Regions from separate parts of the Homo sapiens genome. Here all the other regions are linked to region 4. The links come from fine-mapping of genetic effects on gene expression. A gene starts in region 4. Each other region holds a variant in brackets. All regions are shown on one strand. Distances are from middle to middle. Region 1 overlaps DOCK5 (dedicator of cytokinesis 5). Region 2 overlaps DOCK5 (dedicator of cytokinesis 5). Region 3 has its middle 63 kb from the start of CDCA2. Region 4 holds the start of DOCK5 (dedicator of cytokinesis 5).

Region 1 (7,705 bases), 200 kb before region 4:
AAGAAACTCCAAAGCAGCATTCCAAAAATGTTTCTGGGTGCTGGCAGGATCGCTGAGCAGACACCACTCCTCTGGACATAAAAGAGTCATTCACTGTGATTGACCTTTAGGGCTGGTGTTGTCACATCAGTTTTACAAAGGAGCTCTATTATATAAGCATGCCTTTTATTTCTCTTTTGAAAAACAAAGTTGGCCAGAGGAGGCTGGCCAAGCTGGTGTGAACTGCAGAGGGAATTCAACAAAGGCTGTTATTATATTTGGAAACAGAAAGTTTTTTTCTAAATGCCAATTTCAAATGACTCACTGTTGAAATCTGTTTGACTTCAAACCACTTGAGAATCCCAGGAAAGGTATATGCAGTCGTATACGTGGTCCGTTCAATCCACATCGTCTGGTGGCAAGAAGGAAAACATGAAATGTTGGTCAATTCCCAGGAGGAAAACATGAAATGTTGGTCAATTCCCAGGGAAAACAGCAAGACTCCCTGGTTCACTTAAGTGAGATTCTATTCTCAAATGCCTCGTAGAGACTGAGCCAAATTTTCTCATAAAATTCAAGGATTCTGGATGTTTAAAGCTGAAAGGGATCGTCTACTTGGGACTTCTCACCCTACAGAGGGAAATGTGAGGTCTAGAGAGGTATGACTAGCCCAAGGTCATTACAAGCAGCAGGCCCAGGAAGAGACCAGATTCTGGACTCCTAGTCTAGCATTTTCCATGGAGATGACAGCTGGCTGTCTAGGTAATTAGTACTTGCTGTCTAGGTAATTAGCAGGTGAAGTCTCTGTTCCCAGGGGTGCCATCGTTTCTCCTGTGGAAGCTGGTTAGGTAGGTGGAAGATCTCCACTTGGGATGTCAATTTTACCTTTTTTTTTTTTTTTTTTGAGACGAAGTCTCGCTCTGTCGCCCATGCTGGAGTGCAGTGGTGCGACCTCAGCTCACTGCAACCTCCGCCTCCTGGGTTTAAGCAATTCTCGTGCCTCAGCCTCCCGAGTAGCTGGGACTACAGGTGCGTGCCACCACGCCCGGCTAATTTTTTTGTATTTTTAGTACCGATGGGGTTTCACCGTATTAGCCAGGATGGTCTCGATCTCTTGACTTCGTGATCCGCCCGCATCGGCCTCCCAGAATGCTGGGATTACAGGCGTGAGCCACCGTGCTCAGCCCGTTAATTTTACCTCTTAAAGGACAAAAGGGGTGAACTCACAGCAAATTCATTGTCTGGATCCTTTTCTCCTTTCCGGAACGGCCGGGAGTATCTGAACTGCTGCACTTCATTGGCTCTGTAGTAGCTGGAGAAGGACAAAGCAATGCTGTATTTTTCTCTCTTAGAACAACCACTGCTTGACTTGACTTCAACAAAACCTATAACACATCTGCCTGGTCTGAGTTTTACCCACTAAGCTATCTCATAATCAATAGTGCCTCCACATGAAGGCCTGAGAAAGTGTACAATTTGATTTTATTTCACACCTTACTTTTATATTATTTAGGAATTTATTTCACAGCACACAATTTTATTTATTTATTTTTATTTATTTATCTACTTTGAGTCAGAGTCTAACTCTGTCACCCAGGCTGGAGTGCAGTGACACGATCTTGGCTCACTGCAGGCTGCACTTTCTGAGTTCAAGTGATTCTCCTACCTCAGCCACCTGAGTAGCCGAGATTACAAGCACGCACCATCACGACTGGCTAATTTTTTTGTATTTTTAGTACAGATGGGGTTTCACCATGTTGGCCAGGCTGGTCTTGAACTCCTGACCTCAAGTGATCCACCCGCCTCAGCCTCAAAGTCACAGCACACAATTTTAAAAGGTATATGTGGCCAGGTGTGGTGGCTCACACCTGTAATCCTACCACTTCGGGAGGCAGAGGTGGGAGGATCGCTTGAACTCAAGACCAGCCAACCTGGGCAGCACAGCAAGATCCCATTTACACACACACACACACACACACACACACACACACACACACACACACACACACAGGTGTGGTGGTGTATGTCCCAGCTACTTAGGAGGCTGAGGTGGGAGGGAGGGTCTCTTGAGCCCAGGAGTTTGAAGTTGCAGTGGGCTATGATCGTGCCACTGCATGCCAGCCTAGTTGACAGAGAGACCCTGTCTCTTAGTGGGCGGATTGCCTGAGCTCAGGAGTTTGAGACCAGCCTGGGCAACACGGTGAAACCCCGTCTCTATTAAAATACAAAAAATTAGCCAGGTGTGGCGGCGTGTACCTGTAATCCCAGCTACTTGGGAGGCTGAGGCAGGAGAATTGCTTGAACTTGGGAGGCAGAAGTTGCAGTGAGCCAAGATCACGCACTGTACTCCAGCCTGGGTGACGGAGCAAGATTCCGTCTCAAAAAAAAACAAAAAAAAAGGTGTATGCACTTACACATACATTTGTGATCTCATTAGTCTAGTTTTATAACAGTTCTTTCAATACTGTTAGCATTCAGCTTTTCAAGACAAGGAATGAGCCCCTCCATCACTGGGGACCAGCCACTCCTCTGCGATGCTTTTGGGTGAAAATAAAAGCTCAGGGATCTGTAAGCTAGGTGTGAAATTTCTGATTTTCCTCTGCCTAAAAAAACCAAAACCCCCACATCCCTTTGTATTACCAAGCTTTTATCTTACACTCAAAGTAGAACAGACAGTAGGTCTTGCAAACTGTAATAAATGTAAGGCTTTGGTTTTGATGTACTCCAAACAGGTGTGAGGGAGAGACAAACTTTTCTCTTTTTTGTAGAGACAGCATCCCACTTTGTTGCCCAGGCTGGTCTCAAATTCCTGGCTTCGAGCAATACTCCTCCCTCAGCTTCGGAAAATGTTGAGATTATAGATGTGAGCCACTGTGCCTAGACACAGATTTTTTTTTTTTTTAAATGAAAAACCACTTACTTTAAGATCTGCTCTGGAACAGGTTTATCCTTGTAGCTGGGCGGCAAGCTCATCACTGGCTTTACAGTGAAGCACTGCATGTCTGAAGAGCTCGTTAAGGAAAGGAGAGGGGCTGGGGTCGTGAAGGTGTCAGACACCAAACACCCCTGTTCCTCCTGCTTCACAGCCGGAAATGCCACCAGCACCAATCACTCCCTTTGACCCCAATGCCAGGACCACACTGAAAATGGGAGTTCCTTTGTGTATCACTGGAATGCCTTATTCAGTGATTATAATTAATCCTAGGGCCCTTTTTTTTTTTTCGGTCAGACATCTGGCAAACAATCCTTGCCATAGGGAAATAGACATCAATGCAATATCAGGAAATAGGTACTTAGAAATGGATTTAAACAATTTCTTGGGACAAGCATCCCTCTGAAATCACCAGAATCAGAGCCCAGGCAACAAGAATTACTTTTATCTTTGGATCCCGTCTGTTTATCCAGTGCCATAGTTGGGCACTGTGCTAGGTATTTTGAATGTGTTATCTCTACTATACACAACAACTCTACATGAGGGATATTCTTATTCTCTTTTCACAGATGGAGAATCTGAGGATAAGAGAGGTTAAAATCCAACATCACACAACTGGTAAATGGTAAAGTTAGGCTTCAAAAGCAGCTCAAGTGTAAGCGCTCCTGCTCTGATTTAATGATCAAGTCTTAGAAAGTCTTAGCTCCCCAACCCACCAGGACAGAGATACTGTCTCAAAGTCTACAACAGAATCCAGAATTCACAATAGAAAGTATATATTCCACTTAAGCTCCCCATCTGGCTACGAAGTATATTTCATATCCATCATTTGTCTATTATCTCTCCTCTTTTGTTATGTCATCACCACCAGCTAATGCTATTAGGGTCCCAAAGATTTTACATGGAATGGGAACCTGTGTCAGAATGCTTGAGAAGATGGTGTGTCTGCAGAGAAGGGACTGTAGCTCCTATGTTCTCTGGCTTAGCTGGGGCTGTGCACAGCCATAAGAGCCTCGGGGCCATACTCCCCCCGGAAAGGATACACTGCTTGGGGGACGACTTGATGTCTTCCCCAGGAGGCGTGGTACTGGTCATCTTCTCCGCATTGGGGAACTGGGTTAACAACCTCAGGCTGAAGTCCTCTCGCCTCTCATACTCCTTTCCCCGATAGATGAAGATTTTATTCTGCAGGTGAGACACAGAAAGGGAAGTCATTACATAG[G/T]AAGAGTGGAGAGGCAACTGGAGTTCCGGGTACTGAGGTAGCCACTGCACTCCCCAGCCAACGTTCAATCCCCACCATCAAGTTCTCACTGAAAATCTAGTCCTTGCCTGACAGCGACCATCATATCCTACAAGAGCTGCGGTTTATTGGAGAAGTTAAATCACAGGCATAAAAAATACTTAGCCCAGTTCTTCTTCCAGTGTGGCCCAAGGACCATGGCCAGTCTGCAAACAGTCTGGACCCATCTGCAAGGAAATACGGAACTTGTGCCCTCATTTAAATCAATGACATCCACAGGCATGCTGATATTTTCATGGCAAGACATTCTTAAGGAAGGAAGGAAGTGCATTAATTTACATTGAGGTATAAACTCCTAATCGATCTCATCACCATCCAGCAACAATTTGTGGACCACCACTTAAACAGCACTGCATAAGAGAATGAGGAGAAGCAATGTGTCTTCTGGCACAGAAACAGAGTGACAGAGAACAGAAGCAATGTACCACAGTCCCCAGCCAATCCTGAAAGTCTAATAGAAAATTACTGCATTAAATACTATTTTCTCCACTCTAGACTGTAAATATAATCTCTTTAATCATTTTTTTTTCCCCAAAGAGATTTCCTAGGCCCCAGGCATGGGAGTAATTTGTCTCACAGGTGTGGTTGCCTGGGCAAGTGCAAACATAGCCATGTTTGAAATGAGCAGTTTCCATTGGTAGCCCACACATGATTCCTTTTTAAGCAACACTTGGGCCCAGGTTGTCTTGTAAAATGTCTTTCAAAATCACTTGTCCATTCATATAAAAATATGTATTGCACAAAGAGAAGATCAGCTGGACAACAGGAATACAATGGTGATCTTGCTCTCACAGAACTTACCTTCTAGAGGAGAGAATAAAAAACAAGCAAGTAAATATATTAGTAAACATGATAGTGTAAGTACCGTGAGGGCAATTACACTTTCCAGGCAAACACTGAATGAAGGGAGTAAAAACTACTGGATCTTTTGGAATATATGATAAAACTTTTCCAAGTTAGGAAAAGTCTATGGGACTCAAGCCTGTTGAAATTCCATCATTCAGATGAAACAATGGTGGGTAAAGGATCAGAGTGTAATACAACGCTAGTTGTATGATGCAGACGATAACTGTAAAAGGAATCACAGAAGCAGGTCAGGAAGAATTAGCTCGACTGGAAAGAGAAGGCTTCAAGCAAGACATGGGCCTTAGATGGGCATAGACAGATGAATGGGATAAGGAAGCGTAAAGAGAAGGGGTGCGAAGGACCAGGTGGGTATGTGGAAAGAGTCAGGCCCAGGGGCGGAAAGCACAGAATTCTGGGAGAAGAAATGAGCTTGGACTGGAAGAATGAGCCAGAAAATGAATGGTCTCGCATGGCAGGCAGAGGTTTCAAAGACTTGGAATGTTCACTGGAGGTTCTGGAAGGCAGGAGATGCATGATGAAAGAAGAAGTGTAGACAATGTAAGCCAACAGTGGCATCTATGCCCAACTGAAAGCTCACAGGCTGGACTGAGCAGAAGAAGGAAAAGTAACAGAAGGAGAGACAGAAGTAACAGCATTCAGTGTTTGCTTCTTTGGTGTCGGGAGAAGGGCAGGGCAGACAGGGGAGTCGACGCTGATTCAAAGATCACTGGTCTTGAGCCTGGGCAAGATAGTGAGACCCCATATCTAAGAAAAAATAAAAACATTAACTGGGCGTGATGGTGCACACCTGTAATCCCACCTCCTCAGGAGGCTGAGGCAGGATTGCCTGAGCCTGGGAGGTCAAGGCTGCAGGGAGCTGTGATTACACCACTGCATTTCAGCCTGGATGACAGAGCGAGACCTCTTAAAAAAAAAAAAAAAAGTCACTGGTCTTGGAGTAGGAAGAACAGTGGTACCCCTGACAGAAACAAAAGAGATAATGAGATCTCATTGGGTTGGAAGGAGAGGATGATGTAATTTTAAATATTCTGAATTCAGGGAAATATCCCATAGAAGAGAGTGGCAGTGAGGTTATATCACTCCTGAGGATTTTATATTCTACAGTATGCCTTTGAGGTATGTTAACATCTCTAAACTACTTTACAGTTTATAAAGCACTCCTATATGCTATTAACTTAATTCTCAAAACTTTCCTGCGATGTAGGCATTATTTTTCTAAATTACGGATCAGAAAACCAAGACTCAGTGATTACGTGATTTCACCAAAATTGCACACTCGCTCAGCAGGTGATTTAGACGAGAATGCTTTCGACTTGAAAGTCTGGTGTTCTTGATTTCACAGAATCACTGCTGTCTCTGTGGTCACATTTCTGATTTCATGGGACATGCAGGCATATGTAACGGCTATGGCAGGGGTTGTTCTTTTATGTTGACCTGGATTGAAGCTGAGCTAACACTAGACCCTGATGCATTTAGACCCTACACTCTTTCTATTTTTTATTTTATTTTTTGAGACAGGGTCTCACTCTGTCATCCAGGCTGGAGTGCAGTGGCTTGATCACAGCTCACTGTCACTTCTAATTCCAATACTCAAGCAATCCTCCTGCCTCAGCCTACTGAGTAGCTAGGACCATAGCACATGCTACCATGCCTGGCTAATTTTTAAAAAATTTTTTTATAGAGACGGGGTCATGCTATGATGCCCAGGCTGGCCTCAAACTGCTGGTCTCAAACTCCTGGGCTCAAGCAAGACTCCTGCCTTGGCCTACCAGTGCTGGGATTACAGGCATGAGTCACCATGCTTGGCCTCAGACCTTCCACTCTTTATTCTTTCCTCTGCCTGGTCCACCTCATCCCCAACCACGGTTATTTTAACTCCATACAAGTAACTCACCAACTTTTCTCTCCTGTCTGTAACTTCACTTGAGTTCCAGATCTATACAGCTAATGGTTGACTTGTGCCTTTTGGATGTTCCAAATGTACCTCCCCTTGAGTACGTGCAAAACCAAACTTTGCAAACACTTTAGAAAGCCCTGGGAGGCCCTCTGCTATCTGGTACCAACAGCCACCTGCCCCATTCTCCTATACACCCTCTTGTACACAACTACTCCAGCCTCATAGCTTTTGGACCTGCTATTCTCAAGGTCTGGGACCTTTGCTCAACCTCTTGATAGCTGCATAGCTTATTCTTTAACTTTTTTTCTGGTTTTTGCAAAAATGCCATTTTCTTTCTGAAGTCTTTCTTGTTTACTGTATTTAAAATTGTAACTCCATCCCCAACACCTGCCTCTCTAGTCCCCTTCCCTAAGTCCTTTTCTCCATGATACTTACTGAGTAGCTACACTGTAGGAGGCAGTGTTCTAGGCCATCTCTCATACTAAATAGTTTATTGATTTATCTCATTTTTTGATCTCTCCAAGCTGGAACATAAGCTAGATAATTTCAAGATTTTGGTTCGTTTTGACTCTGCTCCCATGCCTATATTAGAGCCAAGTATATGGTAGGAGTTTAATAAATATTTACTCAAGGAATAAATTCATTCTCTCCTCTGTGACTCTGGCCTTTTCCGGTCCTCCTGTCCCAGTAAATGGTTCAACTACCCCCTCCAATGATGCAGGCCAGAAGC
Region 2 (7,705 bases), 200 kb before region 4:
GACACTGTCTCAAAAAAAAAAAAAATAAATAAATAAATAAATAAATAAATAAATAAAATAATAATATTAAGACATAATCTACATACAGTAAAATGGACCCCTTTTAGTGTAAAATTCTGTGAGTTTTGACAAACATAACCAGGACCACAATCAAGATACAGAACAGTTTCACTGCCACCAAAAATTTCCCCAGGCCCTTCTGCAGCCAACCTCCCCCTGGCCAGCAACCACTGATCTACTTTCTGTCCTGATAGGAAGCGTTGCCTAGGCAAGAATTTCGTATAAATAAAACCACAGAGTACGCAGCCTTTTAAGTGTAACTTCTTTTACCTAGCAAGCTGCATGTGGGTGGGAATCATGCCCGCAGTTGTGTGTATCAGGAGCTGACTGCCTTTGGCTGCTGCAGTATTCTGTTGTGTGGATACACTGAAGTTTGTTTATCCCATCACCAGTTCAGGGACACGTGGATTGGATCCTGTCTTTGGTGACTATGATTAAAGCTGCTATAAATATTCCTGTACATTTTTTGTAAAAGGGTAAGTTTCTATTTCACTTGGGTAAATACTTCCTGGTTACAGATTCTTATAGCACAGGGTATCTTTCTTGGTTATAGTTTATTTATTTATTTATTTTTGAGATGGAGTCTCGCTCTGTCACCTAGGATGGAGTGCAGTGGTGTGATCTCGGCTCAATGCAACCTCCACCTCCTGGGTTCAAGCAATTCCCCTGCCTCAGCCTCCTGAGTAGCTGAGATTACAGGCATGCACCACCACGCCCAGCTAATTTTTGTACTTTTAGTAGGGACAGCGTTTCAGCATGTTGGCCACACTGGTCTCGAACCCCTGACGTCAAGTGATCTGCCTGCCTCAGCCTCCCAAAGCGCTGGGATTACAGGCATGAGCCACTGCGTCCGACATGCAGATTAAATTTTACATTCATGTGTGATTAAAATCTCCCCTCATGAGTTTAGGTTGTAAAATCCATGAGAGTAGGGACTATGTTTGACTGTAATCAGCAAGATCTTTCTAATGCCTTCCCTATGCCTGGCACACAGTAGATGTTCAATAAATATTTACTGACTGAATGAATAAACTGTCTCATTAGGCACTGTTAGGAATGTAAATTGCTTGCTTTATCGCTTGTTTTCAAATTAGGAGAAAGCAGATGGATAATAAATGTTTAAGCAAAGCTCAGCTCTAAAAGAAACTTTTCGTAAGAGATAAGAATTTTTATTTATTAAACTATAAATTGAATATCGCATTATACACAATTTTGAGATGGAAGAAAAATACCATCCTTGTCATTATTATTATAATAAAATGTTTTATTTTGGGATACTCCTGCAGTCTGGTTCTTGGGATACCTATTTTCAAATTAGCTCTGGCTAGAAACATGGTAAACAACGAAATACATCAGTCCACACTTTTCCCTGGCGTGACCCGTAGCAGCTGACCAGTGCGGGGGATGGTTCTGTTTTTCCCTTTTTCACTGCACCTGGGAAAAGTCATTTCACAAAAGACCTGCAGAACACCACGGGTGTCCGGGGGTGTGGGGTGAAGAGGCCGGCTGCTCAGGAAGTGGTTTCCCTCCCCTACCTCCCACAGCGAGAACACGGGTCGGCAGCTGCTAACACCCTGTTGCCCATCTGGAAAAGAAATGAGTCTCTTCCCTCCTCCTAATGGCCTGGGAGACCACCATCAGGTTTCTTACCCGTAGGAAAGAAGGAAAGCCCTGTCCATAGTATCCAACAGCAAAGTATTCAGGCTGAGGCCTCATTGCCTTAATGATGTTCTCATAAAATGAGGCCCTTTTTTTCTGGAAAACAAAACAAGACATTCCAAGGGGAGGTTATAAGTACACAGTTGGGGGAAAAAAAAAGTCAGACTTTGTTTTGTTGTTTCCCACGTAACCCAGAGCAATGAAAGGTCTTTGGAAAACACCCTATGGGCAGAAAAGGGTTATCCTATTCTCGGATCACAGGTTTTGGACCTGGGCTCCATGAATGGACGTTGGAAGGCTGTGACTCCCTGAGGGTGTATGCTGAAGTGTGTGCACGTTGGAATTCTTCTGCGTAACGGGGCAGTGCACAACTTTCAGCAGTTTCTCAAAGTGGGCTCAGGGACTACAAAAGGTTAAAAAGTGCATTCTGAGATTCACAGAAGGCGGCTGCACTTAACCAGACACCCATGGGAGAAGATAAAGAACCTTCCAAGGCCAGGCGCAGTGGCTCACGCCTATAATCCTTGCACATTGGGAGGCAGAGGTGGGAGGATTGCTTGAGGCTAGGAGTTTGAGACCAGCCTGGGCAACATAGTGAGACTCCATCTCTACAAAAAATTAAAAAATTAGCCAGCAGCTGAGGCAGGAAGATGTCTTGAGCCCAGGAGTTCAAGGTTGCAGTGGGCTATGACTGCACCACTGCACTCCAGCCTGGGTGACAGAGTGAGACCCTGTTTTGAAAAAATAATAATAAAATAAAGAACATTTTTAAAAAGAAGGACTGTGTAGTTCATGCAGGTGGTCTGGATGAAAGTGTCTGGTAAATTATAAGTGCCCAGAAGGTGGTGGTGATGTTCGGTTTTTCAGTATCTGCTACCATCTTTATCTTTAATTCTTCACAAGATGAGGGGCTTTCCAGCTTTGGCTCACAAGGTCAGCCTTAAAGAAAGCAAAATAGCCAGCCAGACGTGGACAGCTTTGAGCAATGACCTGAGCCCCCTCCCCTACAATGGTTAGCATGCCATTACTCTTCTATCTAGGTGATGGTCTCGTCAAAATACTATTTTCTTAGACCGGTATGTAACATGTTACATTACTAATATTTCAGCTCAGTTCAGTTGATGAAATTTTTTTTTTTTTTTGAGACAGGGTCTCATTCTGTTGCCCAGGCTGGAGTGCAGTAGCATGATTACAGTTCACTGCAGCCTTGACCTCCCAGGCTCAGGTGATCCTCCCACTTCAGCCTCCCAAAAGTAGCTGGGACTAGAGGAAGGTGCCACCACACCCAGCTAATTTTTTATATTTTTTGTAGAGATGGTGTCTTACTATGTTGCTCAGACTCGTCTGGAAGTCCTAGGCTCAAGTGATCCATCTGCCTTGGCCTCCCAAAGTTCTGAGATTACAGGTATGAGCCACCGTGCCCAGCCCAGTTGATGAAATTAATAAGTCAGTTTTTTGCATGTGAAGCCAGGGGCTGGTAATAG[C/T]ACACTGGTAAACTTTTTACAAAGTGATCTTGACACCCAGCTCCTCAAATAAATGATTATTTCATGACTATGGGTGACCTGATCTTTTCTAACTCCTCTACTAGAAATTATTAAATTTAATATTATGGTTGCCTACCACTGGGCATTCAGAATGGTGGCTGCCTACCATCAGGCATTCAGAATGGTGGCTGCCTTCTATTGGGCATTCAGAAGAGTGGCTGTCTACCACTGGGCATTTGGAATGGTGGCTGCCTTCCACTGGGCATTCAGAATGGTGTCTGCCTACCGCTGGGGCATTTAGAATGGTGGCTGCCTTCCACTGGGCATTCAGAATGGCTGCCTCCTCCACTGGGCATTTGGAATGGTGCTGCCTCCACTGGGCATTCGGAATGGTGCTGCCTCCACTGGGCATTCGGAATGGTGGCTGCCTCCACTGGGCATTCGGAATGGTGGCTGCCTCCACTGAGCTTTCAGAATGGTGGCTGCCTAACACTGGGCACTCATTTTTGTTTTGCTTTACTGATGGCTGGGAATATGGAGGGCCCACAGAAAGAAAAATGGCTTCAGGAAGAATGAGAGAGCTGCAGACAGAGATCCTGAGGGATGTGGAAAGCGAGTCACTACTATCTGAAACTCAATATTCCACCACACTGTCGAGACAACCCCACTCCACTTCCAGAGATGTCCTGAACCTTCTCTGAAGGATATTTGGCAGAAATATTGATCAGAGCCTTTGGACTACATCTTTTTTCATTCTCATTTCAAGCAAAGTTGACTTTTCCATTGTAAAAAAACACCATTCATCCTGACTTTCAACTTACGGAAACATTTTCATGAGTGCTAATTTTAGCAACCCTGTCAGAGGCCTAACATATTTTGACCCAGACTCACCAGGAGGTTGCCAAGGCCCTCGTAGTCAAATACTTTGCTTTCGTAAGTCTCAGCCAACTCTTTGCTCAGCTTGATGGCCTTCTCCCACATCTTCAGAAAAAGGAAAGTAAGGTTAAAAGTGGAGAACAAGGCAGTCATTGATTCAGTGGCAAAAGCCACTGGCGAGTCACTGGGAATGAGCAAGTGGTCTGGGGGATTGAGTTTCGGTAGATATTCCTCACTCGCTTTATCCCTTAGATCAGTGAAACCTTCATTTCCTGACATCATAAAGACAGTGTATATTGGCAGCTTTGCCAGGGGCGTCTTCTGTAGTTCTGTTTGCACGGACATTAAGAATAAGTACCATGTGTCGCCCAAAAAAGCAATACTGTGTTTAACAGGTCAAGCACCTACAGCACTTCAAAGTAGAGAGGAAGCTCTGCCAGCCCAGGTTCGGAAAGCATGCAAGTCTGGTTGGAGGGGGAAGGGAAGTTTCTGTGGGACTTTGGTTCTGAAATGTGTGTGTACAGGTGTGTGTATGGGTGTGTGTGTGTGTGTGTGTGTGTAGGTGTAGTGATGTTGTTTGTGGAGATGGAAAAAGGCTAACAGTACTGTTGTGTGGTGTTGCAGGAAGTCAGGGACCCCGAATGGAGGGACCGGCTGGAGCTGCGGCAGAGGAACATAAATTGTGAAGATTTCATGGACATTTATCAGTTCCCAAATAATACTTTTATAATTTCTTACGCCTGTCTTACTTTAATCTCTTAATCCTGTTATCTTTGTAAGCTGAGGATGTACGTCACCTCAGGACCACTATGATAATTGTGTTAACTGTACAAATTGATTGTAAAACATGTGCGTTTGAACAATATGAAATCAGTGCACCTTGAAAAAGAACAGAATAACAGCGATTTTTTGGGAACAAGGGAAGACAACCATAAGGTCTGACTGCCTGCGGGGTCGGGCAAAAACAGCCACATTTTTCTTCTTGCAGAGAGCCTATAAATGGACGTACAAGTAGGAGAGATATCACTAAATTCTTTTCCTAGCAAGGAATATTAATATTAAGACCCTGGGAAAGGAATGCATTCCTTGGGGGGAGGTCTATAAATGGCCACTCTGGGAATGTCTGTCCTATGCAGTTGAGATAAGGAAGAATAAACAGTCTCCTGCAGTACCCTCAGGTTTACTAGGGTTGGGAAATTCCACTCTGGTAAATTTTTGGTCAGACCGCTTCTCTGCTCTCAAACCTTGTTTTCTGTTAAGATGTTTATCAAGACTATACGTGCACCGCTGAACATAGACCCTCTTCAGGAGTTTCTGCCTTTTGCCCTTTGTCCTGTTTCCTCAGAAGCATGTGATCTTTGCTCTGCTTTTTGCCCCTTGAAGTATGTGACCTGCTCCCTGTTGGTACACCCCCTCCCCTTTTGAAATCCTTAACAAAAAGTTGCTGGTTTTGCAGCTCAGGTGGGCATCACGGTCCTACCGATATGTGATGTCGCCCCCGGCAGCCCAGCTGTAAAATTCCTCTCTTTGTACTCTTTCTCTTTATTTATCAGCCGGCCAACACTTATGGAAAATAGAAAGAACCTATGTTGAAATATTGGGGGTGGGTTTCCCCGATAGTGTGGAATTTGGCAAACTGTATTTCAATGCAGGGCACTGATTTCCCTACTTAGTGGATGAGTTTTAGGAAATGCCTCCGAGCATGTATAACCATGTAAGTTACAGGCTAAAGCACGTCCTCAGTGTCTGAGGCTAGCAGCCCAGATTGAGCCTTCTAACCCCTTTGGTATTTCATGAGCTGTCTCTTAGACGGATACTATTCAACTTGCAGCATCGGGTCACCTCCTGCTTCATTCCTGTTCACAAGGTGCTATGTTCCATTGTTTCTGGCTTCTGAGGAAATGTGTGCAGAGCCCACAAGCCATTGGGAAACACTTCAAAATTAAATCTTTTAAAATCATTGTTTGCAAAATCTGTCCCCCTCTGAAATCTCAGAATTCAAGAATACACAAGGGAAGAATAAACAGTAGCTGTGAGTTATTGTTGTATATTAAATCATGTATCTGGTCTTGGTCCTGAGTTCCGGTGAATTTTCTTAGAATTTCTCAAATAATAAGAGTGTCTTTGTTATTCCTGGTGCCCCCACCCCAGGATCATACCCAAATCTATGCTAATGAGGTGACTCATGGTGGTCTCCTAGTCTCAGGATGGGGGCTGCCATGCCAGAAATACTAATCATGTGACTAGAAGGTTAGGGCTGTGAGCCATGCGATATCAGCCCAATCTTCAGGGACAAAAGGAAGGCTAAAGATCAAGTTCATTGTGTAGTTAACGATTCATTCAATCCTGCCTGTATAATGAAACCCCACAGTGGCTCATGCCTGTAGTCTTGGCACTTTGGGAGGCCAATACAGGAGGATCACTGGAGCCCAGGAGTTCTAGGTTCTAGACCAGCCTGGGCAACTGGTGAGACCCCATATTTACCAAAAAAAAAAAAAAGAAACCCCAATAAAAACTCTGTACACCCATGGCTTGGGTGAGCTTCCTGATTGAGGAACACACTGATTTGCTGGGAAGGTGCCCCGAGTTCACAGGGGGAAGACACAGAAGCCCCACGCTTGAGATTCTCCCAGACTGTTCCCTATGGGTCCCTTCATGTGGCTGGCCCCAGTTTACATTCTTCCTGATGAAACTGGAATGGTTAAATATAGCACTTCACTGTGTACTATTGGTTGTTCTAGCAGACTATTAAACCTGAGGGGGCAGTGGAAGCCCCCCAGATGTATACCCAGTTGCCCAGAACTGTGAATGGACTGGGGACCCCCAAATTTGAAGATGGCATCTGAAGCGGGGGCAGTCTCGTTGGAGACAGTGCCCTGAACCTGGGTAGTCAGTGCTAACTCCAAGTGGTGAGCATCAGAATTGTATTGCGATACTGCGGTCATTTTCCTCTTTCCCCTAGTACAAAAACAATCCAATACTCACTTTGCCTTTGTCGAAATATGATATGATTTCTTGATACAGCTTCTCTTTAAGCTCTTGCTGGGTATAAACATAGTAACTGTCCTTCTGAAGCAAATGAGGCACACAGGGCTTGTCAGACCACTGAAAAGGAAGAAAAGCGACACACGGTTAATACAACAAATATTCAGCCCCCCAACATCAAGAAAATATTGTATATATATTTGACTCATTGATTTTGTATTTTAGATTATGTATTAAACACAAAAGTTACATATACACACATATACACATGCCAGCTCCAAAACAAGAGTATCATGCCAAATGAAGGAGCACTCACAGCATCCCCCCAAAATGCCAGCGACAAAGCAAGGTCGCTAACTGACATGACTGTCGTTGTACTGGGGCATCAGTAACACAGTCAGATAAAAGGAACAAATTAGGAGTATAAAAATGAATAGGAAGAGGTAAAACTACCACAATTTGCAAACATTATGGTTGTATTCCTCACAATGCAAGGCAGTTGACTAAGAAACTGCGACACACAATAAGAGAATTAAGTTACGCAGCAGGAAGAACAATTAATATACTTGAAATAAAATTTATTTCAGATACACGGAGACTAAATATACAGAATAGAAGAATGGAACCAAACAAAAATAAGT
Region 3 (7,705 bases), 340 kb before region 4:
GGATTCATAGATTTTTTTGAAGGTGTTTTTTGGTCTCTATCTCCTTCAGTTCTGCTCTAAGTTATTTCTTGTCTTCTGCTAGCTTTTGAATTTGTTTGCTCTTGCTTCTCTAGTTCTTTTTTTTTTTTTTTTTTTTTTTTTTTTTTTGAGATAGTGTCTTGCTCTTTTGCCCAGGCTGGAGTGCAGTGGTGTGGTCTCGGTTCACTGCAAGCTCCGCCTCCCAGGTTCTCACTATTCTCCTGCCTCAGCCTCCTGAGTAGCTGGGACTACAGGCACCCGCCACCACACTCAGCTAATTTTTTGTATTTTTAGTTGAGATGGGGTTTCACCATGTTAGCCAGGATGGTCTCAGTCTCCTGACCTCATGATCCGCCTGCCTCAGCCTCCCAAAGTGCTGGGATTACAGGTGTGAGCCACTGCACCTGGCCTCCTTCTCTAGTTCTTTCAATTGTGATGTTAGGGTGTCGATTTTAGATCTTTCCTGCCTTCTCCTGTGGGAATTTAGTGCTACTTCTGCCTTAATTTCATTATTTACCCAGTAGTCATTCAGGAGCAGGTTGTTCGGTTTCCATGTAGTTGTACAGTTTTGAGTAAGTTTCTTAATCCTGAGTTCTAATTTGATTGCACTGTGGTCTGAGAGACTGTTTGTTACAATTTCCATTCTTTTGCATTTGCTGAGGAGTGTTTTACTTCAAATTATGTGGTCAATTTTAGAATAAGTGTGAGGTGATGATGAGAAGAATGTATATTCTGTTTTTGGGGGGTGGAGAGTTCTGTAGATGTCTATTAGGTCTGCTTGGTCCAGAGCTGAGTTCAAGTCCTGAATAGCCTTGTTAATTTTCTGTCTCATTGATCTGTCTAATATTGACAGTGGGGTGTTAAAGTCTCCCGCTATTATTGTGTGGGAGTCTAAGTTTCTTTGTAGGTCTCTTAAGAATTTGCTTATGAATCTGGGTGCTCCTATATTGGGTGCATATATATTTAGGATAGTTAGCTCTTCCTGTTGCATTGATCCCTTTACCACTATGTAATGCCCTTCTTTGTCTTTTTTTATCTTTGTTGGTTTAAAGTCTCTTTTATCAGAGACTAGGATTGCAACCCCTGCTTTTTTTTTATTTTTTGCTTTCCATTTCCTTGGTAAATATTCCTCCATCCCTTTATTTTGAGCCTATGTGTGTCTTTTCACATGAGATGGGTCTCCTGAATACAGCACACTGATGGGTCTTGACTCTTTATCCAATTTCCCGGTCTGTGTCTTTTAATTGGGGCATTTAGCCTGTTTACATTTAAGGTTAATATTGTTATGTGTGAATTTGATCTGGTCATTATCATGCTACTTGGTTATTTTGCTCATTAGTTAATGCGGTTTCTTCATAGTATTGATGGACTGTACAATTTGGTATGTTTTTGCAGTGGTTGGTACCAGTTTTTCTTTTCCATATTTAGTGCTTCCTTCAGGAGCTCTTGTAAGGCAGGCCTGGTGGTGACAAAATCTCTCAGCATTTGCTTGTCTGTAAAGGATTTTATTTCTGCTTCACTTATGAAGCTTAGTTTGGCTGGATATGAAATTCTGGGTTGAAAATTCTTTTCTTTATGAATGTTGAATATTGGCCCCCAATCTCTTCTGGCTTGCAGGGTTTCTGCAGGGAGATCCGCTTTTAGTCTGATGGGCTTCCCTTTGTGGGTAACCCGACCTTTCTCTCTGGCTGCCCTTAACATTTTTTCCTTCATTTTGACCTTGGTGAATCTGACGTTTATGTGTCTTGGGATTGCTCTTCTCGAGGAGTATCTTTGTGGTGTTCTCTGTGTTTCCTGAATTTGAATGTTGGCCTGTCTTGCTAGGCTGGGGAAGTTTTCCTGTATAACATCCTGCAGAGTGTTTTCCAACTTGGTTCCATTCTCCCCGTCACTTTCAGGTACAATCAAACATAGGTTTGGTCTTTTCACATAGTCCCATATTTCTTGGAGGCTTTTCTCATTCCCTTTCATTCTTTTTTCTCTAATCTTGTCTTCATGCTTTATTTCATTAAGTTGATCTTTAATCTCTGATATCCTTTCTTCCACTTGATCGATTTGGCTATTGATACTTGTGTATGCTTTGCGAAGTTCTCGTGCTGTGTTTTTCATCTCCATCAGGTCATTTATGTTCCTCTCTAAACTAGCTATTCTAGTTAGCAATTCCTCTAACCTTTTTCAAGGTCCTTAGCTTCCTTGCATTGGGTTAGAACATGCTTCTTTAGTTTGGAGGAGTTTGTTATTAGCCACCTTCTGAAGCCTACTTCTCTCAATTTGTCAAACTCATTCTCCGTCCAATTTTGTTCCCTTGTTGTAGAGGAGCTGTAATTCTTTGGAGGAGAGAGGCATTCTGGTTTTTGGAATTTTCAGCCTTTTTGCGCTGGTTTTTCCTCATTGTCGTGGATTTATCTACTTTTGGTCTTTTATGTTGCTGACCTTCAGACGGGGTTTTTGAGTGGATGTTCTTTTTTGTTGATGTTGATGCTATTCCTTTCTGTTTGTTGGTTTTCCTTCTAACAGTCAGGCCCCTCTGCTGCAGGTCTGCTGGAGTTTGCTTGATATCCACTCCAGACCCTCTTTGCCTGGGTATCACCAGCAGAAGTTGCAGAACAGCAAAGATTGCTGCCTGTTCCTTCCTCTGGAAACTTGGTCCCAGAGGGCCACCTGCCAGATGCCACCTGGAGTGCTCCTCTATGAAGTGCCTGTCGACGCCTGCTGGGAGGTGTCTCCCAGTCAGGATGAATGGGGGTCAGGGACCCACTTGAGAAGGCAGTCTGTCCCTTAGCAGAGCTTGAGTGCCATGCTGGGAGATCTGCTGCTCTCTTCAGAGCTGGCAGGCAGGAACATTTAAGTCTGCTGAAGCTGCACCCACAGCCACCTGTTCCCCCAAGTGCTCTGTCCCAGGGAGATGGGAGTTTTATTTATAAGCCCCTGATGGGGCTGCTGCCTTTCTCTCAGAGATGCCCTGCCCAGAGAGGAGGAATCTACAGAGGCAGTCTGGCTACAGTGGCTTTGCAGCACTGGGGTGGGCTCCACCCAGTTTGAACTTTGAGGCAGCTTTGTTTAAACTGTGAGGGGAAAACCACCTATTCAATCCTCAGTAATGGTGGACGTCCATCCCCCCACCAAGCTACAGCATCCCGGGTTGACTTCGGACTGCTGTGCTGGCAGTGAGAATTTCAAGCCAGTGGATCTTAGCTTGCTGGGCTCTGTAGGGGTGGGGTCCGCTGAGCAAGACCACTTGGCTGCCTGGCTTCAGCGCTCTTTCCAGGGGAGTGAATGGTTCTATCTCGCTGGCATTCCAGGCACTACTGGGATACAAAAAAAAAAAAAAAAAAAAACTCCTGCAGCTAGCTCGGTGTCTGCCCAAATGGCTACCCAGTTTTGTGCTTGAAACACAGGGCCCTGGTGGTATAGGCACCCGAGGGAATCTCCTGGTCTGTGGGTTGCAAAGACCATGGGAAAAGCATAGTATCTGGGCCTGAGTGCACCGTTCCTCATGGCACAGTCCCTCACTGCTTCCTTTGGCTAGGGGAAGGAGGTCCACAACCCCTTGCACTTCCTGGGTGAGGCAACGCCATACCCTGCTTCGGCTCATCCTCCATGGGCTGCACCCACTGTCTAACCAGTCCCAGTGAGATGAACCTCAGCTGGAAATGCAGAAATCACCCACCTTCTGCATTGATCTCGCTCGGAGCTGCAGACTGGAGCTGTTCCTATTCGGCCATCTTGCCAGCCATCAGATCATTTTGTAATGTTATATAATGGTCAAGTACTGCAAATCCCAACTACAAGTACAAAACAAGATATCTTGAAATTTTATAATTTGATGTTTTACTGTCACAGGAACATTTGCAAGTGAAATGGGGTATAACTGAAATAAAAGTTTTTTATTCATTTCTTTTATATGTTTACATTTAATTAATTAATTAATTAATT[T/A]ATTTATTTATTTTGAGATGGAGTCTTGCTCTGTCACCCAGGCTGGAGTGCAGTGGCGTGATCTCAGCTCACTGCAAGCTCCACCCCCTGGGTTCACGCCATTCTCCTGCGTCAGCCTCCCGAGTAGCTGGGACTACAGGCACCCACCACCACACCCAGCTAATTTTTTGTATTTTTAGTAGAGATGGGGTTTCACCGTGTTAGACACGATGGTCTCAATCTCCTGACCTCGTGATCCGCCCGCCTCGGCCTCCAAAGTGCTGGGGTTACAGGCATGAGCCACCGTGCCCGGCCTATTCATTTATTTATTTATTTAGAGACGGAGTCTCGCTCTGTCACCCAGGCTGGAGTGCAGTGGCGCATCTCGGCTCACTGCAAGTTCCGCCTCCCGGACTCACGCCATTCTGCTGCCTCAGCCTTCCAAGTAGCTGGGACTACAGGTGCCCGCCACTACGCCCAGCTAATTTTTTTGTATTTTTGGTAGAGATGGGGTTTCACTGTGTAAGCCAGGATGGTCTCGATCACTTGACCTTGTGATCCGCCTGCCTCAGCCTCCCAAAGTGCTGGGATTACAGGCGTGAGCCACCGTGCCCGGCCATTGATTTATTTTTATATTGACTGATTAATTGGCAAGGTCTTCTCTGTTGCCCAGGTTGGAGTGTAGTGGTGCAGTCAGCTCACTGCAGCCTTGAACTGCCAGGCTCAAGCCATCTTCCCACCTCAGCCTCCAGAATAGCTACTGGTGCGTGCCACCATGCCCAGCTAATTTTTGTATTTTTTTCATAGAGATAGGGTCTCACTATGTTGTCCAAGCTGGTCTTGAGCTCCTAGGCTCAAGTGATACTCCTGACTTGGCCTCCCAAAGTGTTGGGATTACAGGTGTGAACCACCATGCTCAGCCAAGATACAGTTTTTAAATCATTGATTCTTTGGAAAAGCTATTGGGGAAAGGAGGGTAGCTTTCCCCAGGTTTGGAAATTAACTCCTACAGGAGGGGATTCCCATTCTCTCCCCAAAATTTCTTTGTAGAACTAGAGCAAGGAGCTGGAGAAATCTCTTAACAAGTCTCACAACTTCAGCGTACCAACTACAATTACATTCTACTCACCATCTGGTAATTAGTTATCACTTAATAAAGATTTCTTTTGGCACTTGCTGTCCTAAGCCCCCAACACAGGACCTGTGCCAGTTTCCCCTCCAGACCTCCCAACAGAAATGCCAACAGCTGCCCAGAGTACAGACCTGTCTCTTCCTGGAATTAAGGTGCCCAGGATGGAGGGAGGGCTGTTAAACTCAGATTATCCCTACAACTGTCCTAAGAACAGGGTAAGACTTCCTGACAGAAGCTGTTCTTTTACCAGACTCTAGAGAGAACTTCCTGGCAATCTTCCTGTCATTTGCTGACACACACACCTGACCTCTCCTGCCAAGCCATAGGTAGACACACTTTGGGTGTGAAACTGATTTAATAGTCCCATAGACTAAACATAGAAATTGACCCTTCTGGTCTTATTTTTTGAGATGGAATCTCACTCTGTCACCCAGGCTGCAGCAGTGGCACAATCTCAGCTCACTGCAACCTCCTCCTCCTGAGTTCACGAGATTCTCCTGCCTCAGCTTCCTGAGCACCTGGGATTACAGGTGTGTGCCACCACGCCCAGCTAATTTTTGTACTTTTAGTAGAGACGGGGTTTCACCATGTTGGCCAGGCTGGTCTCGAACTCCTGATGTCAGGAGATCCACCCACCTCAGCTTCCCAAAGTGCTGGCATTACAGGTGTGAGCCACTGAGCCCGGCCAACCCTTCTGGTCTCAAAGCTTAAAACATGTGTTTGTTTTATCCGAGTTCCTTCCTTAGGAAGTGACCTTCAGGTTTCTCAAAAAAGGATCAAAGAAGTGAAACTCATCAGATCACCACATCTACACAATGAGATGCTGGACCCCTCATTCATCCTGATTTTTTCCTTGCCTTTCCCTAGTTCCTGTTTTCTTACATATTGTTTCATTTCTTCCCAGCTATATAAACCCTTAGTTTTAGCTGGTCAGGGAGATGGATTTGAGACTGAGCTCCCATCTCCTTCTCTGTAGCACCCGATTAAAGCCTTCTTCCTTGGCAACAATCATCTCAGTGACTGGCTTTTAGTGCAGTGAGTAGTAGGACCTAGACTCAACCCCTGATGTTTTGGTAACATGGTGAAAAGATACATGGATGGTATTTGATTTCCATGGCTAGGGACAAGCTAGAACAAGGCTATGGATAGGCTGATTTAAATTTTTAGCCAAAAGTAGTGTATTCAATAGAGGATGACACAAAAAATGACCTTGCTAGATCCATATAACCTCCTCACAATGTGATCAAGACAAATCTAAATTAGGAGTAAGGAATGCAGTGGGCTCTGCAGTAGTTGACATGTGTGTACTAATGGGATGGATTCCTTTGGAAGAAATGCAGGATGAGGCTATGGCTTACGGACAGGAGAGTAAGACTGGAAGGGGAAACACATCCCTCCAGTGGAGCCAAGACATGGTCATTGTATCTCCAATCACGTAGTGAGGGCGGCTCTCCATTTCTGAGGACATTGGCAGGTCTTGCACAGAACTCTTATCTTTCTGGATGAGACTCGATTCTCCTCTTTCACAGCCTCCAAATCATTGCCTCTCCAGGTACAGCATTTTCATCAAAGAAGAATCAACTTGAGGGGAAGAGAGACTCCTAATTCCAGCTCAGCCACTGACCAGCTCTGAGACTTTGGGCAGGTCACATGACCTCTTAAAAGTCTCAGCTTCCAGCTGGGTATAGTGACTAATGCCTTTAGTCCCATTTTGGAAGGCTGAGGCAGGAGAATTGTTAGAGGGCAGCAGTTTGAGATCAGCCTGGGCAACATAGCAAGACCCCCATCTCTACCAAAAATTTAAAAAAGCTAGCTGGGTATGGTGGCACATGCCTGTAGTCCTAGTTACCTGAGAGGCTGAGGTAGGAGGAACATTTGAGTCCAGGAGTTTAAGGCTACAGTGAGCTATGATCCTGCCACTGCACTCCAGCCTGGGGAACAGAGTGAGACCCTGTCTCTTAAAAAAACAAGTCTCAGCTCCTTATCAGTAATGTGGGTGTGATAATGAAGTCACATAAAATGAGGGCATGTGGAAGAACACCTGCTGCAGTGACGACACTGCGGATGAACAATACAATGGAATATTTTTCATCTTTTGGTTACCCTGTGATCAAGGGAATAGGTACCCTGTGATCAAGGGAATAGGTGAGCAAGGCATAGGATGCTGGTCTGATGAAAACAAATACAGAATATCTGTGTTATTTTCATAGAGGTCCCATAAAGGAGGCATTACTAATATTCCCATTTTACAGATGAAGTAACTGAGGCTCACACTTTTGTGGTTTTAAGCACATTACTTTTTAAAACTGATTTTGAAATAATGATGGATTCACAGGAAGTTGCAAAAACAGCAGAGGCCCCGTGTACCCTTCATCCAATTTCCTCAATCGTTGCATCTCCCCTGACTAGAGTCCAAGAGGGGCTTTCCATTTCCTCACCTGCACACCTCAGAAAAGGAGCTGGCCTCCCGGAGGCTGACTCAGGGGCCTGGTTGGAGCCACTGCAGGGCTTTTATTAGGACAGAGGAATAGATTTCAGTGAGCTGGGGAGCTGTGCTAATATTCCCATTGGAGATTTATAAGACAAGACAACGCTGAGACTGGCTGACATTGTGAGAATGCTCCTGCCTCCACGAAGGAA
Region 4 (7,705 bases):
AAGAAAGCCCAGACAGGCTGCATTTCAGTCCCTGTAGAAACATCTAGGATATGTCAGGAACAGCCAAGAGTGGCACCAAGATAAAATATGACAGTAGCGACTGCCAGCTTCAGCAGGCACAATTCATACTGAGTCCAAAGCTCTATCCTCACACAGACTAGCTCTGCAGAGGCACACTCCTCTTAGAGCACAACAGGCAAAGTCATAGCTAGCTCTGAGTCATCCAAATGCTTCAACATGACTATCCTACGGTTCCTTCATCCAGAAACCAAATCTGACCAGTACACACTTAGAGAAGTCCAGAAAGCCAATTTTCCCAACTATATTTAAGAAAGTCTGTCTGCTCCATGCTTCCTTGTTTTCTCAGCAGAATATCTCATTCTCTTACTTGCAGAGATAAAGACAGAGTGGAGGCTCTCCCTTCCTCCATCTAACCAAACAAAATTCAACTCATATTGGGGTGAATGAGATGTTATGCCTAATGGGAAGAAAAAGAAGAGGAAAAAACTGCATTCAATTACCAGACAAGCTAGGTTAGTGTACTTTAGAACGGCACCCCAACATCAAGGACAAGCAAACTGAATGCACTAATACCTGGTACACCTGTTGAGTGCTAGGAATACAAAACCACAATGGTCTGATTCACTGAACCCAAGGATGGCACAGTCCAGGAACTGCGAGGAAGAAGCAAGGAGGTTTGGGACAGTCTGACAAATAGCAAATTTGAAGAAGGGAGTAGGAATGGATTTGAGCCCTCAAGGAAAGGTGAGCTGTCTGAGGCAGAGTTGGGAGGGCACTCCTGGCAGGGACAGGCACAATGGGAGCAAAGTCCCAAAGGAGGGACTCTGCAGGGTATGTTGCACAACAGTGGGAAGGGCAGTTGGTCTGCATTGGAGAGCTAGTGAAAGAAGCCTCGAGAGATAATGCTGAAGATAGGCTGAACCAGATTATAGGAACCTTGGAACGGAGGCTCAGACTTTATCCTGTTGACCACGAGAGACTTCCAAGCAGGGAGGTGACATAAACATAAGCAAGGAGGTGACAAAAACAATGAGTTTTAGCAATAAGCAATGGAGATTTCTCTCTTCAGTTAATTTATCCCAACTGTGGGTCCTTTTGTCAAACCCAGACAAACCAGAATCTATGTCTGGTGAAATAAGTGTTCAGAATTATATCCTGGAGCAGTTTCCCTAACACCTAGGCCCTGGAAATGCAATCCAAATATTTTACACACACACACACACACACACACACACACACAATTTCCACCCATATTTCCATATACATATATATATACACACACACACATATACGCATATATACATATATATGTATATACATATATACATATATGTGTGTGTATACGTGTGTGTGTGTGTGTATATATATATATACGTATATATATGTATATATAGTTTTTTTTTTGAGATCGGGTCTCACAGTATCACCCAGGCTGGAGTGCAGTGTCGTGATGGGGGCTCGGTGCACCCTCAACCTCCCAGGCTCAAGCTATCCTCCCACCTCAGCCTCCTCAGTAGCTAGAACCACAGGCACAGGCGACCATGCCCGGCTAAATTTTTTTCGTATTTATTGTAAAGACCCGTTTGCCATGTTGCTATGCTAGTTTTGAACTCCTGGGCTCAAGCAATCCTCCTGCCTCTGCCACCCAAATTGTTGGGATTACAGACGTGAGCCATCGCACCTGGCCCAAATATTTTTCTTGACTGATAAGTGACACAGTAAACTGACTCCAGAACATAAAAACAAAATATTAAAAACAATTATACTTGCTCCTAGGACTATGGCAATAAAAACCACATTTTTGAAACATGTTTGCATTAATTACCCTCAACTGAATAGTTTTGAAAAGAGCTTTTAATCCTGATAAAATTAGAGTTGATAACATTTCTGTAGTGATTGGGCATTGTAAATATGCTTTCATCTAGGGGCCAGGTGAGGTGGCTCATGACTGTAATCCCAACACTTTGGGAGGCCGAGGCAGGCGGATCACCTGAGGTCAGGAGTTTGAGACCAGCCTGGCCCAGATGGCGAAACCTGGTTTCTACTAAAAATACAAAAATTAGTCAGGTGTAGTGATGCAAGCCCGTAATCCCAGCTACTCGGGGAGGGGGGCTGAGACAGGAGAATTGCTGGAACCTAGAGGTGGAGCTTGCAGTGAGCCGAGATTGCGCCACTGCACTCCGGCCTGGGCGACAGAGTGAGACTCCCTCGTCAGTCCGTCTCAAAAACAAACAAACCAAAAAAAAAAAAAAAAAGAGCCCTGAGGCAGAAGCAACATCTCTACCCATTTCTGAGATGCAGCTAAGGGAGAGACTAAGATTCTAAAAGCAACTTAAGAGCAAAAAAGAAAATGTCTTTTGAATTGAGGGAAAACAAAAAATAATAAATATATAAAGGATCACAACCTAAGAATAATATAGTAAATATGAGACTGTTAAAAAACAAAACAAACAACAACAAAAAACCCTGACTCCTGGCTACAGAGTTGAAAAGCCCCTAGACACGTTGAGTAGCTCTTAATTGAGACTGCACTTCATTAACCAGTGAGGTGAGGAAAAACAGGACCTCAGTAAGGGAGTAAAGTCAAAGACTAAATTACAAACAGGCCAAATGAATGGATCTGAGAGGAAGTGATAAAATTCGCAACACACTCAGCCGTGTTTATTGTAGGGAATCACCCCAGGTCTAACTGCCATTGTAATCACCCCGTTCAGGGCAGAAGTCTTCCCACAGGCCCTCAATAACTTCAATCCTTGATAAAAAGCCAAAGGAGCCTGACTTTCCACCTGGGTCAAAATCCCCGCACATCTATTGTTTCGGAGCCAAAGCACCACCACCAGCAACCCCTGCGCACAACCCGGGGCTCTCCAGCACCGCTGTTCTGAATGCCAAGTGCCCAGCACGGGGTCTGGCACAGTTTCCTTAATAAAATGTCCTCTTCTCGTCTCCAGGATGAAACTCAGGATCCGGAAGGCAGCCTTACACCCTCTCCAGACAGGCTCCGTTAGGGGATGAGTGCGCACAAACAGCCCCAGGGGCCAGCCACCCCCTTCCCGTGCCACAACTTCCTGTCCCTTCCATCACTTCCACGCCACGACTCTAGTTTCCATCCAGCTCACAACTGTCATCAAGATCCCAGTCTCTGGAGGAAAGGGGGCAGGGCGGCTTTCCACCCTCAACTCCTCACTTAAGGGGCGTCTGAGAAGAACCTACGAAAGCGGGGGGCAGAAAGCACTGGGACAATGAGCACCAGTCCATGTGCCGACCCGGGCTGGTCACCTACTCCCAGGTGAAACCCACGCTGGGCGCACCGGGGCGAGCCACAGAGCTGCGGCCCCAAAAGAGCAGCAGGCGCGCCCCCCTCGCGTTGACATTTCCCTGGTGTGAAGTGCCGGAGATTGGGATGCAAGAGCGGGATTACGGTCCCGAAGCTCAGCTGCACTTGGAAGCACTCGGAGTCCCCAAACCCTGGGCGACTTCCCCATCGGCGCTCCCTGGAGAGGACTCCTACCGTCCCCGGCTCCCAGAGCTGCGCAGCCGGGCCGAGCCCCCGGCCAGGGTCCTCCGCCGGGCTCTGCGCAAACCTGGCAGGGCCGCTGTCCGCGAACTTGGCCGCGTGGGTCGGGCCGGGACAAGGTGGGGCGCGCACTCACCAACCCCGTACTTCTGCCTCTTGGTCGGGATCCAGCGGGCCATGGCGGCGACCTCGCCCCGCGGCGGCGGCGACTAAGGCTGCTACAGCTCCTCGGGCTCCGGCCGCCGCCGCCCCGCGCTCCTGCGTGCCCCAGACGCTTCCGCCATGTTCCGCCAAACTTCGCTGGACTCCGCGGGCCGCCTCCTCGCCGCGCCGCCCGCGCCCGTGCCCGTGCCCGCGCCGCCCGCGGTCACCTGCTGGGCCGGGCTGCAGCGCAGCAGTGCGCGCCCCTCCTGGCGCCGCCCCAGTCCCTCCCGCCGGCCGCACCCTCCGCCCGCCGGGGCCGCCTCCGAGCCGCGGGCGCCCGGCCTCTCCCGCCCGCGCCGCTCTCTGCGCTCTGCCGGGCGGGGGCCGACTGCGGCTCCGCCTCGCGCGCTTCCCTGGAGCGGCTTCCTGGGCCGGCGGGACTTTGACGCTGGCGGCACTTTGCCTTTCTCCCGCCCTCCCCACCCGGCTGATACCCCGGAGGCTGGGTCCCGGGGGTCCGGCTCCCGACAGAGGGCTGCGCTGGAGGAGCCGGGCACGCCCAGGCCGGGCGGCCGGTGGGCGAGGGATGCGGGCTGCGCTCCCACGGCGCGCGCCGGACACTTGGGGAGCGGAAACGGATCAGCGAGAGCGGCTTCTTGCTCGGGGCACCTCCGGTGCCTGGCACTAAGCGGGCGCGCAATAAATATTTGTTGAATGAATGAGCAGTTGACTTCTGCCTTCACCCCCTGGAGCTTGAACCCGCGCCGCGAGCGGGAGAAGCCGGACTCAGGGCAGACTGAATCTCCCGGGGCCACCGCTTAGAGCCTGGAAAGCAGAACTTTTATCACCGGAGAGCTGGTGCAAGGGAGGTGGGCTCCTCAGAAGTATCAGACCGTTTGCTAGGGGATCCTCTGCAGGGAAATTGTTTAGAAAGCCCTAATTTGGAAGTCCTGTATCCCCAAACTCCGGGGACCCCCCAACCTTAAGCTGAAGAAACTTAGACCCTCATGCCCAGACCTCCCTTTCCCAACCAGCCAGCAGCCCAGAGAGCATTCCCGTGGAGAAAGGGCCAAGGCGCATCCCCGTCTTTTCTCCGTCAACGACTGCCTTTTCTTGACGAAGATCCCAAAGGGGCTGCGCATTTGAACCGCCTTGGGCTCCAGGTGGCGCCCTCTCTGGAGCTCCCCTCTTGGAATTCATTTCTTCCTGGAGAGACTTGGAGAATGAAGATCCAGGGGTTTCTCCCTACCTTGTACCGAGAAGTAACATTGCAAGTAGAGTAAATGACCAGCTTAATTACGTTCACCTTCGAAGAAGATTCCTCTAGAGAGAAATTATATCCTCCTTGCAGCCTGTGAAGGTTTTCATGCGTTTTAGGAATATAAAAGAAAGGAAGACAAACATGTAGTAAAGATAGTAAAGACAGGTAGTTGGCCAGGCGTGGTGGCTCATGCCTGTAATCTCAGCACTTTGGGAGGCCGAGGCGGGTGGATCACCTGAGGTCACGAGTTCCAGACCAGCCTGGCCAACATGGTGAAACCCCTTCTCTACTAAAATACAAAAGTTAGCCAGACGTGCTGGTGTGCTCATGTAATCCCAGCTACCCAGGAGGCTGAGGCAGGAGAATCGCTGGAACCCGGGAGGCAGAGGCTATAAGTGAGCCGAGATCGCGCCACTGCACTCCAGCCTGGGCAACAGGGCAAAACTCCGTCTAAAAAAAAAAAAAAAAAAAAAAGACAGTAAAGATAGATAGGCAAACAAGGTAACAAGATAGTAAAGTTTCATTGGAGAATTAGTGCATTTTAACTTTGGTGGTTTTTTACCAAACGAGGTCTGAAATTTTTTTTAAGTCCTATTCACGGTGGGTAACTACTAGAGCTGGCTTTTTTTTTCTCCATCAACCAATAGGTATTTATTCACAATGTTTAACAATAATTTAAGAAATTCCTCTGTCACTTTAGACTTGACATCCAGAAAGAATTCCACCATCTTCCCTAAAATAATTTATCTTCCTCCATTAGTATATCATGATTCTAATTTCCCAGGTTAGGTAATTTCTTCTTCCTTCTTCACACACATATTAAATGCCTACACGTTAAGTGCCAGGCATCACTCTAAGAATGAGGGTGCAGCGGTGAATACAGTAGAATGTGTCCCTTCACAGAGCTTCTAGTCTAGACGGGGAGAGTAAGACAGTAAAGAAATGTACACCAAACGAGAGTAAACATTAGAGAAAAATCCAAAGCAGGGAGGATAGGGCGTGTAGGGTGCTGCTGTTTTTATGGAGTGGTCTGGGAATGCAGCTCTGCTAAGCTGAGGTTGAGGTGTAGACCTGAAGGAAGTGAAGATTCCGGGAGAAAGTATTCTGGAAAAGAGGAACAGCAAAGGCAAAGGACACCAAGCGTGTTTGGCAGGTTCCCAGGTCACCCAGAGATCCTAGGTAATGAGAGCTGAGTAACAGGTGAGAGGAAACTTGGTCTAAGAGGCAGAGGAATGCCAGATAGAGCAGAACCCTGGCAGGCATATGGACTTTATATATTACTACTACAAGCGAGGTTTGGAGGGCTTTGAGCCAACCTGGAACATATTGAACTTGCCTGCTGTGGTATGAATCCATTGTAAAGGGGCAAGGGAGGCCCACATGGATGGATGTTGGGGGCTATTTCAGTCATTCAGGCAAGACATGAAGGTAGTTGGGTCCAGGAGGATAAGGATGGAGGTGAAAAAGATGTTGGGTTCTTGACATACGTGAAAATAGAGCCTGGCCAGATGTGGTGGCTCACACCTGTAATCCCAGCATTTTGGGAGGCTGAGGTGGGAGGATTGCTTAAGGTCAGGAGTTCAAAATCAGCCTGGACAACATAGTGAGACCCTCCTCTACTATATATATATCCTGGGCATGGTGGCTGTGCCTGTGGCCCTATCTACTCAGGAGACTGAGGTGGGAGGATTGCTTGAGCCCAGGAGGTCGAGGCTAGCAGTGAGCTATGATTGCATCACAGCATGAAAAAGAACCAAGAGGAGGGCCACATGAACGGCAGGGGGATCTACTACTGTGAGGCTTCAATCTTTTTTGGAAAGTTTTCCCCCAGAAAGAGATATGCTTGTATTTTTCTTTTTTTTTTTAAAGAGCCCTACCCGTATCGTACACCCTTCAGGCCCCACACACCTTGGTTCTTGTCCCTGCATGTGAGATACAAGCTGGGTCAAGAATGACTCTAAAGCCAGCTAGGTCGCACATGCCTGTAGTCCCAGCTGCTAGGGAGGCTGAGGCAAGAGGATTGCTTGAGCCCAGGAGTTCCAGGCTGCAGTGAGCTATGCTGATCAGGTGTCTGCACTAAGTTCCGCATCAATATAGTGACATCCTGGGAGCAGGCGACCACCAGGTTGCCTAAGGAGGGGTGAACTGGTCCAGGTCAGAAATGGAGCGGGTCAATTATTTGGAAAGCCCTAATTTGGAAGTCCTATATCCCAAAACTTCGGTACTCCTCCTTAGCTGAAGAAATTCAGGCCCACATATCCAGGGGGAAATCTACCCCAAGACCTCCCTTTTCCAACCAGCCAGCAGCCCAGAGAGCATCCCTGTGTAGAAAGCAACTGGATGCATCCTTGTCTTTTCTCTGTCACTGACTGCATTATTGACAAAGATCCCGTAGCCGGGACTTCACATTTGAACTGCCTCAGGCTCCAGGTGGCACCCTCTCTTGAGCTCCCCTTCTGATCAATAATGGGATGGCACCTGTGAATTGGCACTGCATTTCAGCTTGGACAACATAGCAAGACCCTGTCTCTAAACAAATATTAATTCAAAACAAAAAGAGTGACTCTAAGGTTTGGGGCTTGAATAGCAAGGGAGTAGAGTTGCCATTGTCTTGGTCACCATTTATATCTATCTTGTCTTCACCCTTTCCTGTCCCAGTTGCTCTGTATCAAAGTTTTCCTTTCAATATTTCTTTAGGACCCACTTCTTCACGCCTTCCTCAGCAACTTCTCCATGTGGCCCCTTAGGAGCTAAAGCGCTCT

What was found.
Region 1: its variant is fine-mapped to the expression of DOCK5 in whole blood (TOPMed, PIP above 0.99).
Region 2: its variant is fine-mapped to the expression of DOCK5 in whole blood (TOPMed, PIP above 0.99).
Region 3: its variant is fine-mapped to the expression of DOCK5 in whole blood (TOPMed, PIP above 0.99).

What each region holds. Positions count from the first base shown.
Region 1 is chr8:25,385,482-25,393,186 of GRCh38, reverse strand. DOCK5 (dedicator of cytokinesis 5) reads right to left here. Exons shown (of 52, transcript NM_024940.8): 41 at 3,955-4,096; 42 at 2,900-2,981; 43 at 1,207-1,291; 44 at 305-391. Among named protein-coding and RNA genes, the nearest start is that of GNRH1, 35 kb to the left of the region's middle. The variant G/T (reference allele first, on the strand shown) is at 4,134.
Region 2 is chr8:25,376,784-25,384,488 of GRCh38, reverse strand. DOCK5 (dedicator of cytokinesis 5) reads right to left here. Exons shown (of 52, transcript NM_024940.8): 38 at 7,065-7,184; 39 at 4,095-4,184; 40 at 1,711-1,815. Among named protein-coding and RNA genes, the nearest start is that of MIR6876, 35 kb to the right of the region's middle. The variant C/T (reference allele first, on the strand shown) is at 3,204.
Region 3 is chr8:25,518,786-25,526,490 of GRCh38, reverse strand. No RefSeq gene overlaps it. Among named protein-coding and RNA genes, the nearest start is that of CDCA2, 63 kb to the right of the region's middle. The variant T/A (reference allele first, on the strand shown) is at 3,955.
Region 4 is chr8:25,180,921-25,188,625 of GRCh38, reverse strand. DOCK5 (dedicator of cytokinesis 5) reads right to left here and starts at 3,937. Exons shown (of 52, transcript NM_024940.8): 1 at 3,675-3,937. The coding sequence starts at 3,717. LOC124901912 (a long non-coding RNA gene) reads left to right here and starts at 4,249. Exons shown (of 2, transcript XR_007060861.1): 1 at 4,249-7,705. RefSeq lists silencers at 3,640-3,689, 3,860-4,029, 4,040-4,119.